Homo sapiens: one gene and its partner. Each later gene encodes a partner of the first gene's protein in a complex. Each region holds a gene or a part of one and is shown on either strand. Other genes may lie near its edges. The genes, in order: DNM1L and MIEF2. A codon is read from its position in the direction of its gene.

Region 1 (7,294 bases):
ATTTTGTATTTTTAGTAGAGACAGAGTTTCTCCATGTTGGTCAGGCTGGTATCCAACTCCCGACCTCAGGTGATCCACCCGTCTCGGCCTCCCAAAGTGCTGGGATTACAGGTGTGAACCACCCCGCCTGGCCTAAGAATCACTTTGAAACTAAGTTTCCTGGATCCTGTCTCCAGAGATTTTGATTTTATAAGCCTGGGTTGGGTGAGGGACCATAGGTGATTCTGATACAGATGGTTCCTAGATCCTAATTTGAAAAACATATTAGTGAATCATTGGATTTTAAAATGCATGATACTGGAAAAAGCAGGAAAATTAGGGGAGGTTGAATCTATGGCATACTACCATCCAGTACCATGCTGACTTTGGTGGCATTCTTGCTTTAATATATCACTTCCCAGGCAACCATTGCTGACCCCTAAATGTTTTAAACTTTGGTTTTATGAAATGCCCAAGTAACACTCATTTGGGGGCTAGGGACTTGGAGGAGTGGAGGTGAGGGAATCCTGTTTACAGCTATCAGTCATTCACATGTTTTATGTGTTAGCTAAATAAATTGCTTTTATTTTTTCTAGTAGAGACCATCTGTGTGAAATGAACAGACACAGTGGGGAGAGAGAGAAGGCTGATGATACTTTTAGACCATGGTGTAACTTTGCAAGTAGAGGAGATAAGACTTAAAACAACTTTTGTGACTCAACTTGGGAAATTTAATCCTATTTCTTAAATTAAGAATTGGAAAGGGGAGCCCTCCAGGTATGTAATCTAAACTACCACCCAATATAGGTATCCGAATACAGATGACATTAACCTGAGACTCTGGCTTAGTGTTCCTAGTAATGTACTTTACACTTTTCCTTTTATTTCAGTGATTTCAGCATTCTATCTTCAGTAATTCAGACAAATGTAAAAGGAAAAACAATTTGGATTTTTTATTTTTATTTTTTTAGGGTCTGGCTCTTTCACCCAGGCTGGAGTGCAGTGGCATAATCCATAGCTCACTGTAACCTCAAATTCCTGGGCTCAAGCAGTCCTCTTGCCTCAGCCTCCTGAGTAGCTGGGACTACAGGCACGCATCTGGCTAATTTTTTTTTTTAAATTTAAAATCGCTGCCTTACTATGTTGCCAAGGCTGGTCTCAAACTCCTGGGCTCAAATGATCCTCTTGCCTTGGCCTCCCAAAGTGCTAGGAGTATAGGTGTGAGCCACTGCACCTAGCCTAAAAATAATTTGGATTTTATTTTATTTTATTATTTATTTTTTTAGAGATGGAGTCTTGCTCTGTTGTCCAGGCTGGAGTGCAGTGGTGCGATCTCAACTCACTGCAACCTCCGCTTCCCGAGTTCAAGTGATTCTCCTGCCTCAGCCTCCTGAGTAGCTGGGATTACAGGTGCATGCCACCACGCCCAGCTAATTTTTGTATTTTTAGTAGAGATGGGGTTTCACTGTGTTGGTCAGGCTGGTCTCGAACTCCTGACCTCATGATCCACTTGCCTTGGCCTCCCAAAGTGCTGGAATTACAGACATGAGCCACTGTGCTCGGCCTAATTTTTGTATTTTTAGTAGAGACAGCATTTTACAACGTTGGCCAGACTGGTCTCAAACTCCTGACCTCAAATGATCTGCCTGCCTCAGCCTCCTGCTGGGATAACAGGTATGAGCCACCATGCCCGGCCAGTAATTTGGATTTTAATTTCTAATTTGCAAATCAACTTTTAAAAATTTAACATTAAAAATACTGAAATATTCATGTAACACAAAATTCACCCTTATAAAGTATACACAACTCAGCAGCGTTTAGTATGTTCACAAAGTTGTACCACCATAGTGTAATTCCAAAATATTTTCATTACCTGAAAAAGAAAACTCCTGCCCATAAGCAGTCACCCCCGTTTTGTCCTCCCCCAGCTTCTGACAGGTTTTGATTTTATAAGCCCCACGTGGGTGAGGGTCCATCGGTGACTCTGATACAGATGGTTCCTAGATCCTAATTTGAAAAATATATTAGTGAATCATTGGATTTTAAAATGCATGATACTGGAAAAAGCAGGTATCACTGGCAACCACTAATCTACTTTTTGTCTGTATGGATTTGCCTATTTGGGATATTTCACATTAGTGGAATCCTATAATATGTGATTTGATCTTTTGTGCCAGGCATCTGTTGCTCAACATAATTCTTTTTTTTTTTCTTTTTTGAGACAGAGTTTTGCTCTGTTGCTCAGGCTGGAGTGCAATGGCACAATCTCAGCTCACTGCAACCCTTCACCTTCCGGGTTCAGGTGATTCTTCTGCCTCAGCCCGGATTACAGGCGCGTGCTACCGCACCCAGCTAATTTTTTTGTATTTTTAGTAGAGACGAGGTTTTGCCATGTTGGCCAGGCTGGTCTCGAACTCCTGACCTCAAGTGATCTGCCTGCCTCAGCTTCCCAAAGTGCTGGGATTATAGGCATGAGCCACTCAACATAATGTTTTTTAGGTTCATCCATTATGTAGCATGGCAGAATAATAAATATTACATTGTATAGATACAGCACAGTTTATTCATCAATTGATGAATTTTTGGGTTGTTTCTATTTTTTGGCTATTATGAATAAATAATGCTCTGCGAACATTCGTTTACAAGTTTTTGTGTGAATGTGTATTTTTTTTTTTTTTTTGAGATGGAGTCTCGCTCTGTCACACAGGCTGGAATGCAGTGGCGTGATCTTGGCTCACCGCAAGCTCCGCCTCCCGGGTTTACGCCGTTCTCCTGCCTCAGCCTCCCGAGTAGCTGGGACTGCAGGTGCCCGCTACCACGCCCAGCTAATTTTTTGTTTTTAGTAGAGACAGGGTTTCACCGTGTTAGCCAGGATGGTCTCGATCTCCTCACCTCGTGATCCACCCGCCTCGGCCTCCCAAAGTGCTGGGATTACAGGCGTGAGCCACCGCGCCCGGTCAGTGAATGTGTATTTTTGATTCTCTTGGGTATATATCTAAGCGTAGACTTGCTGATTCATATGATAATTCTTACGTTTAACTTTCTGAAAAACTACCAAAGTGTTTTCCATAGTGGCTGCACCTTTTTTTTTTTTTTTTTTTGAGACAGGGTCTCACTTTCTCGCCCAGACTGGAGTGCTGTGGCGCTATCTTGGCTTACCGCAACCTCTGCCTCCCAGGCTCAAGGCGTTCTCCTGCTTCAGCATCCTGAGTAGCTGGGATTACAGGTGCCCGCCACTACTGCCCGGCTACTTTTTGTATTTTTAGTAGAGGCGAGGGTTTCCTTATATTGGTCAGGCTGGTCTCGAACTCCTGACCTCAAATGATCCACCCACCTCGGCCTCCCAAAGTGCTGGGATTACAGGCGTGAGCTGCTGCGCCCAGCCGTGGCTGCACCATTTCACATCCCCTCCAGGGTTCAGGTTTCTGCACATCCTTATCAACACTTGTTGTTATCTTTTTTTTTTAAGCGCTAAATCATTCTGGAATTCTTTATTTGAAAAACAGCACTTTTTGACACCTATGCCATTTCCTTCTCTTATGGACAACTTTTTTCATAGTTTGATGTCCCTCTCTCTTTTTTTTCTCCATGAGCACTGCTGTCTACATTTTAGCATTTATTGACTATAATTTAATTCCTGCTTATGCATTGTTTTCTTGTGTTCTTAGATAAATTTATGTTTTTCTCTTTTTTTGTATAGATTATGAGCTGCTGCTTTTTTTTAACTTAACAAAATTGAGGTGAAATTTGCAGAACATAAAATTAGCCTTTTTTTTTTTTTTTTTTTTTTGAGATGGAGTTTTGCTCTTGTTGCCCAGGCTGGAGTGCAATGGCGCGATCTCGGCTCACAGCAACCTCCACCTCCCGGGTTCAAGTGATTCTCCTGCCTCAGCCTCTCAAGTAGCTGGGATTACAAGCATGTGCCATGCCTGGCTAATTTTGTATTTTTAGTAGAGACAGGGTTTCTCCATGTTGGTCAGGCTAGTCTCAAACTCATGACCTCAGGTGATCCGTCCACCTCGACCTCCCAAAGTGCTGGGATTACAGGTGTGAGCCACTGTGCCCAGCCAAAATTAGCCCTTTTATAAAATGTATAATTCAGTGTCATTTAGTGCATTCATAATGACATCTCTGTCTAGGTCCAAAACAATTTCATCACGAAAGAAAACTACTATTGAGCTGTCACTCCCTCTTCTTTCTTTTCCATTTAATGGCTGAGTAATATTCTGTTATATGTATAAACCACATTGGTTTATTCAATCACCTATTGATGAGCAATTGGGTTGTTTCTGCCTTTTAGCTGTTGTGAATAGTGCTGCTGTGAATATTGGTGTACAAGTATTTGAGTACCTGTTATCAGTTATTTTGGTATATACCTAGGAGTAAAATTACTGGGTTCTATGGTAATTTTGTTTAACTTTTTGAGCAACCACTTTTCCACAGCAGCTACACCATTTTAAAATTCCCACCAGCAATGTTTGAAGGGTGCAGTTTTTCTGTATCTTTGTCAACATTTGTTATTATCTGTTTTTGATTATAGTCATCCTAATGGGTGTGAAGTTTTGTTTTGCATTTCCCTAATGACTAATGGTGTTGAACATCTTTTCATGTGTTTGTTGGGGTTGTCTTATTGTTGAGGTTGTAAGAGTTCTTTTTTTTCTTTTTTTTTTTTTTTTTTTGAGATGGAGTCTCGCTCTGTTGCCCAGGTGGCCAGGCTGGTCTTGAACTCCTGACCTCAGGTGATCCGCCTGCCTTGGCCTCCCAAAGTGCTGGCATTATAGGCATGAGCCACCACACCCGGCCTTGTCTTTTTGCTTCCTTGTTAGTGTCCTTCAATACACAAAAGGTTTTACTTTTGGTTAAGGCTAATTTATCTTTTTTTTTCCTTTTATTGCTTTATGGTGTCATATCTAAGGCATTGACAAATCCAAAGCCGTGAAGATTTTTTTTTATTTTTTAATGTTTTTTCCCCTAATTATTTTATAGTTTTGGCTTGTATATTTAGGCTTTTGATCCATTTTGAGTACATCTTGGTATGGTATGAGGTAGGGGTTCATTTCATTTTTTTTGCACGTGCTTCTCCAGTTGACCTAGTACCATTTGTTGGAGAGACTGTTCTTTCCCCATTGAATAGTCTTGGCATTGTTGAAAATCAGTTGAGCAAAGATTTTGTTGTTGTTGTTGAGACAGGGTCTCACTCTGTCACCCAGGCTGGAGTGCAATGATGCAGTCTTGGGTCACTACAGCCTCCACCTCCTGAGTTCAAGCGATTCTTCTGCCTCATCCTCCCAAGTAGCTGAGACTACAGTCACCTGCCATCACGCCGGGCTATTTTTTTTGGTATTTTTTTTTAGTAGATACGGGGTTTTGCCATGTTGGCCAGGCTGGTCTTGAACTCCTGACCTCAGGTGATCCATCCACCTCGGCCTCCCAAAGTGCTGGGAATACAGGCATGAGCCACCATGCCTGGCCAGCCAAAGATTTATTATATGGGTTTATTTCTGGATTCTCAGTTCTATTCTGCTTTGATTACTGTAGCTTTGGAGTATATTTAAAATTTGAGAAGTGTAACTTTACCAGCATTGTTTTTCTTTTTCAAAATTGTTTTGGTTGTTTGGGGTCCCTTGTCATTCAATATGAATTTTATTTTATATTATTTTATTTTGAGAGGTAGTCTTACTCTGTCGCCCAGGCTGGAGTGCAGTGGCGTGATCTCGTTTCACTTGCAGCCTCTGCCTCCTGGGTTCAAGCGATCCAACCACCTCAGGCTGCAAGTAGCTGAGATTACAGGTGCCCACCACCATGCCTGGCTAATATTTGTTTTTTTAGTAGAGATGGGGTTTCACCACGTTGGCAAGATTGATCTCAAACTCCTAACCTCAGGTGATCTGCCCACCTTGGCCTCCCAAAATGCTGGGATTACAGGCGTGAGCCACTGTGTGGGCCCCGTATGAATTTTAGATTTGGCTTCTCCATTTCTGTAAACAAGACAGTTGGGATTTTGATGGGGATTGTGTTGCCTCTATAGGTTGCTTCAGGTTTTATTGGCATCTTAACCATTTTAAGTTAGAATTTTTGATGGGGAGGTTTTTTCTTTTAGCACTTTATCTTACTGCCTCTGGCTCCTATGGTTTCTTTTCTCTTTTCTTTCTTTGAAAACAAGTTTATTAAAGTAAAGGAATAAAAGAATGGCTACTCCATAGGCAGAGCTGCTGTGGCCCCTATGGTTTCTGATGAGAAGTCTGTTGTATCTGTTGTTAGTCTTACTGAGGATCCCTTGTTCATGACTCTTAGCTTCTCTCTTGCTGCTTTTAGCATTTGTCTTTGTCTTTCAACAGTTTGATTATAATTTATCTCAATGTGTGTATTTCTTTGTGTTTATCCTGCTTTGAGTTCATCGAGCTTCTTGGATGTGTAGATTCATATCACTTTTTCATGCTTTTATGGAAGAAGTGGGGATTTTCACAGACGATAATTCTGCCTTATCAGATATCTGAATCTCTCTCTTAGTGATCTAGAAAGCACTGGACCTATAGTTTTATAACCAAGAAAAAATTCCTTCCTAAGGACTGTTAGGTCTGCAGTATTTTAGAAAGTTTGGATTTTGGGTATTAAGTTCATATAAGAACACTCTTTTAAGCCAAGTGTGGTGGCCTGTGCCTGTAGTCCCTTTTACTTGGGAGACCTGGTGGCAAGGCTGCTTGAGCCCAGGAGGTTGAGGGCTGTAGTTCACTGTGATTGTGCTGTGAATAGCTGCTGCACTCCAGCCTAAGCAACATAGTGAGACCTGGTCTCTTAAGAACAAAAAACACCCCACATATTAACTACAAATTATGAAGTGGTTTAAACTTCATATTTATATTTTGTCATTAGGTAGAGGGTTTGAGCTATATGGTAGAAACATTGTAGTTTAGCTATTTTATTTTATTTTATTTTTGAGGCAGAGTTTCGCTCTCGTTGCCCAGGCTGGATTGCAATGGCGTGATCCTGGCTGACTGCAACTTCTGCCTCCTGAGTTCAAGTGATTCTACTGTCTCAGCTTCCCGAGTAGCTGGGATTACAGGCATGCGCCACCACGCCTGGCTAATTTTGTATTTTTAGTAGAGACAAGGTTTCTCCATGTTAGTCAGTCTGGTCTCAACCTCAGGTGATCTGCCCGCCTCACCCTCCCAAAGTGCTGGGATTACAGGCATGAGCCACTGGGCCCGGCGTAGTTTAGCTGTTTTAAATACCATAAGATTAACATTTCTAAGGACACTCTTAGAAATATTTTATTTAAATAAGTGAAGCAAATATATAAGGAAACCTTCTGTAA
Region 2 (3,685 bases), on another chromosome or scaffold:
GGACTCTGGGGCAATGAGAACTCGTCACCAAGAGCTCACTATATGTGAGGATCTGAACTGAGTGCCTTCTCAGGTGCCACTGCAGGTGAGAAAAGTGAGGCCCTGGGACATCACACAGCTAGTTCTCGGTGGCGTTTTCTTAACTAATCACAGGCTGTTCCGACATGTTCCCCGCCCCTTCACTCTGCAGAAGGGCCTGCAGAAACTGATCCTGAGGTGACACCACAGCTCAGCTCCCCAGCACCGCTGTGTCTGACACTGCAGGAGAGGCTGCTGGCCTTCGAGCGGGACCGTGTGACCATCCCAGCAGCCCAGGTGGCTTTGGCCAAACAGCTGGCTGGCGACATCGCCCTGGAGCTGCAGGCCTACTTTCGGAGCAAGTTCCCGGAACTGCCCTTTGGGGCATTCGTGCCTGGGGGGCCGCTCTACGACGGGCTGCAGGCGGGGGCTGCGGACCATGTGCGTCTCCTGGTGCCACTGGTGCTGGAGCCGGGCCTGTGGAGCCTGGTGCCGGGCGTGGACACTGTGGCGAGGGACCCTCGCTGCTGGGCCGTGCGCAGGACGCAGCTTGAGTTCTGCCCCCGTGGGAGCAGCCCCTGGGACCGCTTCCTGGTCGGGGGCTACCTCTCCTCCCGCGTCCTGCTGGAGCTACTCCGCAAGGCGCTGGCTGCTTCTGTCAACTGGCCGGCCATTGGCAGCCTTCTCGGGTGCCTGATCCGGCCCAGCATGGCCTCGGAGGAGCTGCTGCTCGAGGTGCAGCACGAACGCCTGGAGCTCACTGTGGCTGTGCTTGTGGCAGTCCCTGGGGTCGATGCTGACGACCGCCTCCTCTTGGCCTGGCCCCTGGAGGGGCTGGCGGGGAACCTCTGGCTGCAGGACCTGTATCCAGTGGAGGCTGCTAGGCTGCGAGCCCTGGACGACCATGACGCTGGGACTCGCCGGCGGCTGCTGCTGCTGCTGTGTGCTGTCTGCCGTGGTTGCTCGGCTCTGGGGCAGCTAGGCCGGGGTCACCTGACCCAGGTGGTCCTGCGTCTGGGGGAGGACAACGTGGATTGGACGGAGGAGGCCTTGGGTGAGCGCTTCCTGCAAGCCCTGGAGCTGCTCATCGGCAGCCTGGAGCAGGCCAGCCTGCCCTGCCACTTCAACCCCAGCGTGAACCTCTTCAGCAGCTTGCGTGAGGAGGAGATTGACGACATTGGCTATGCGCTATACAGTGGCCTACAGGAGCCCGAGGGGCTGCTCTAGGTGGGTGGAAACGGGTGGTTGCCATGTTTTCTAATGCTGGGGAGCTGCACCCACCTCCCTTCCAGGGATTTGAATAGTGGTTTTTCTCTAGCTTTTTGCCAGAACAAAGGAGGGTACATTACTTAAACCCAGGGCATCAGGATGTGCTTGGGCTATGGTGGCCATAAACCCTGAGCCCAGAGAGCTTGGGTCACTGTCACCTGAGTGCAGCTGGGCTGCCTCAGGCAGCTTGGAGTGCCAGCCATTCCTGCAAGCACCGTTTCAGCTCTTGGGGCCAACCCCAGGACCTTTGGCTCTGTCCATCACCAGCAACCAATCCACCAACAGAATGTGGTTTCTGCCATCCTGGGCAGAAGCTGAAGGCCAGCTTCACATTTCTGCTGAGAGAAGGTGACTTAACGCCTTTTCCGGCCCTAGCTCCAGGCGTTTTGAGGCGTCTGGTGCCTGATGGTAGGTATGGTGTGTTTGTTCTGTCCCCCAGGGGCTGGAGTCACCTGGTGCCCCTGAAGGACAGATTTTTGGCTGTTAAAGGATGGCATTTTCCTGCTGTCTTCTGTGCGTTTAGTTTTCTTGCTGAGCGGGAGCTCAGTATGACTTGCCACCCACCTGATACCTCAGGGCAAGGCCCTTTTTCCCTCCAGCCAGGTGAGTGTTTTCTTCAGGCAGCTGAGGGTCCTGGGGGAGCTGAGGCTCTGTGCTGCACCCCCAGCCCACAGCTGGGGCATCTCACTGGAGCTGTTCCAGGCCCCACTGGAGAGCAGAGGACCTGATCCCCCACTAGAGAGGTCCGGTGTGCACAGCCGGCCTCCCAGTGTGCCAAAATGAACTGCTCTCAGCTGATGGCTGTATTCTGACTTTGAAGCCTGTTAAGAGGTAGCAAGGGGGCTAGAGGAGGGAGATTCCACCTCCCCTCCCAAGTGACCCTCCTCCTGCCTCTGGTATCCTTCCTTTTGAAACGAAGCTCAGCTTCGAAGATGTGAACAAGAATAAAAGGAAAAAATTCTAATGTATATATAACTCAGGCTGGATAAGGGAGTCTTGGTGCTTTCATACGCAGCTGTTGAGGGTTTTCTGTAAGTCCTGTGGCTTGTCCTGGCACTTTGGCAAGAGTGCTTGAGGTCAATTGGAGGTGGTAGAGTTTACTTTAAAAAGTAGCATCTTGGCCGGGTGTGGTGGCTCGCATCTGTAATCCCAGCACATCGGGAGGCCGAGGCGGGCGGATCACGAGGTCAAGAGATCGAGACCATCCTGACCAACATGATGAAACCCCAACTCTACTAAAAAGACAAAAATTAGCTGGGCGTGGTGGCACGCACCTATAGTCCCAGCTACTCGGGAGGCCGAGGCAGGAGAATTGCTTGAACCCGGGAGGTAGAGGTTGCAATGAGCTGAAATTGCACCACTGCACTCCAGACTGGCGACAGAGCAAGACTCTGTCTCAAAAAAATAAATAAATAAGCATCTTGGCCCCGCGCTGTGGCTCACGCCTATAATCCCAGCACTTTGGGAAGCCGAGGCCGGTAGATCACCTGAGGTTGGGAATTCAAGACCAGGCTGACCAACGTGGAGAAACTCCATCTCTGGTAAAAATTCAAAAAAATTAGCTGGGCATGGTGGCACATGCCTGTAATCCCAGCTACTTGGGAGGCTGAGGCAGGAGAATTGCTTGAACCCGGGAGGCGGAGGTTGTGGTGAGCTGAGATCGTGCCAGTGCACTCCAGCCTAGGCAACAAGAGTGAAACTCTGTCTCAAAATAAAATAAAATAAAATAATAATAGTAATAATAAATTAGCATCTCAGTCTGTTTGGGCTGTGATAACAAAATGCCATAGACTAGGTGGCTTATAAACATCAGAAATTTATGTCTTACCATTTTGGAGGCTAGAAATCCAAGAGTGAGTCACAGATTCCATGTTTGGTTGAGAGCCCACATCCTGGTTCATAGGTGTCCCCATCTAGCTGTCCTCATGTGGAGGAAGGGGGGAAATGCTCTCCTAGGGTCTCTTATAAGGAAACTAAGCCCACCCATGGGGTGGGGGCCCACATTCATGATCGAATCACTTCCCAAAGACCCCATCTCCTGTTAGCAGTGCCTTGGGGGTTAGGATTTCAGCATACAAGTTGAAGGGGACACAGACTTTCTGTCCGTGACAAGTAAGGTAAGTGGAAGGAAAAGATGAAAAGCTTGGTGTTGCTTTAGTAATGGGAACCAGCCAGTTTGGGATGTTTCTTCCCGCAAGGCTGAACTGCTGAGCCCTGCACCATACTTTCTGTAATTAGTGGGCTGTTGACAGCCCTTCAGCCATGCTCATCATTTTTTAGAAACCTGTGTTTTTTTTCTTTTGAGAGTGAGTATCACTCTGTCGCCCAGGCTGGAGTGCAGTGGTGCGATCTCGGCTCACTGCAACCTCTGCCTCCCGGGTTAAAGCAATTCTTCTGC

The links.
Region 2: the proteins of DNM1L (region 1) and MIEF2 are in contact, whole or in part, in a cryo-EM structure (PDB 5WP9), measured with the Homo sapiens proteins. Residues at the interface, in NP_036192.2 of Homo sapiens: Asp190, Met191, Ala192, Thr193, Ser194, Leu197, Lys198, Ile199, Arg201, Glu202, Gly223, Thr224, Asp225, Asp228, Arg233, Val234; in NP_631901.2 of Homo sapiens: Val213 (codon at 517), Asp214 (codon at 520), Thr215 (codon at 523), Val216 (codon at 526), Arg218 (codon at 532), Arg226 (codon at 556), Leu230 (codon at 568), Arg235 (codon at 583), Val245 (codon at 613), Gly246 (codon at 616), Tyr248 (codon at 622).

The regions. Positions count from the first base shown.
Region 1 is NC_000012.12:32,682,299-32,689,592, forward strand, and holds part of DNM1L (dynamin-1-like protein), read left to right. Parts: intron 1-7,294. UniProt on the Homo sapiens protein: Functions in mitochondrial and peroxisomal division.
Region 2 is NC_000017.11:18,263,520-18,267,204, forward strand, and holds the end of MIEF2 (mitochondrial dynamics protein MID49), read left to right. Parts: intron 1-190; coding exon 191-1,245; 3' UTR 1,246-3,033; downstream 3,034-3,685. UniProt on the Homo sapiens protein: Mitochondrial outer membrane protein involved in the regulation of mitochondrial organization.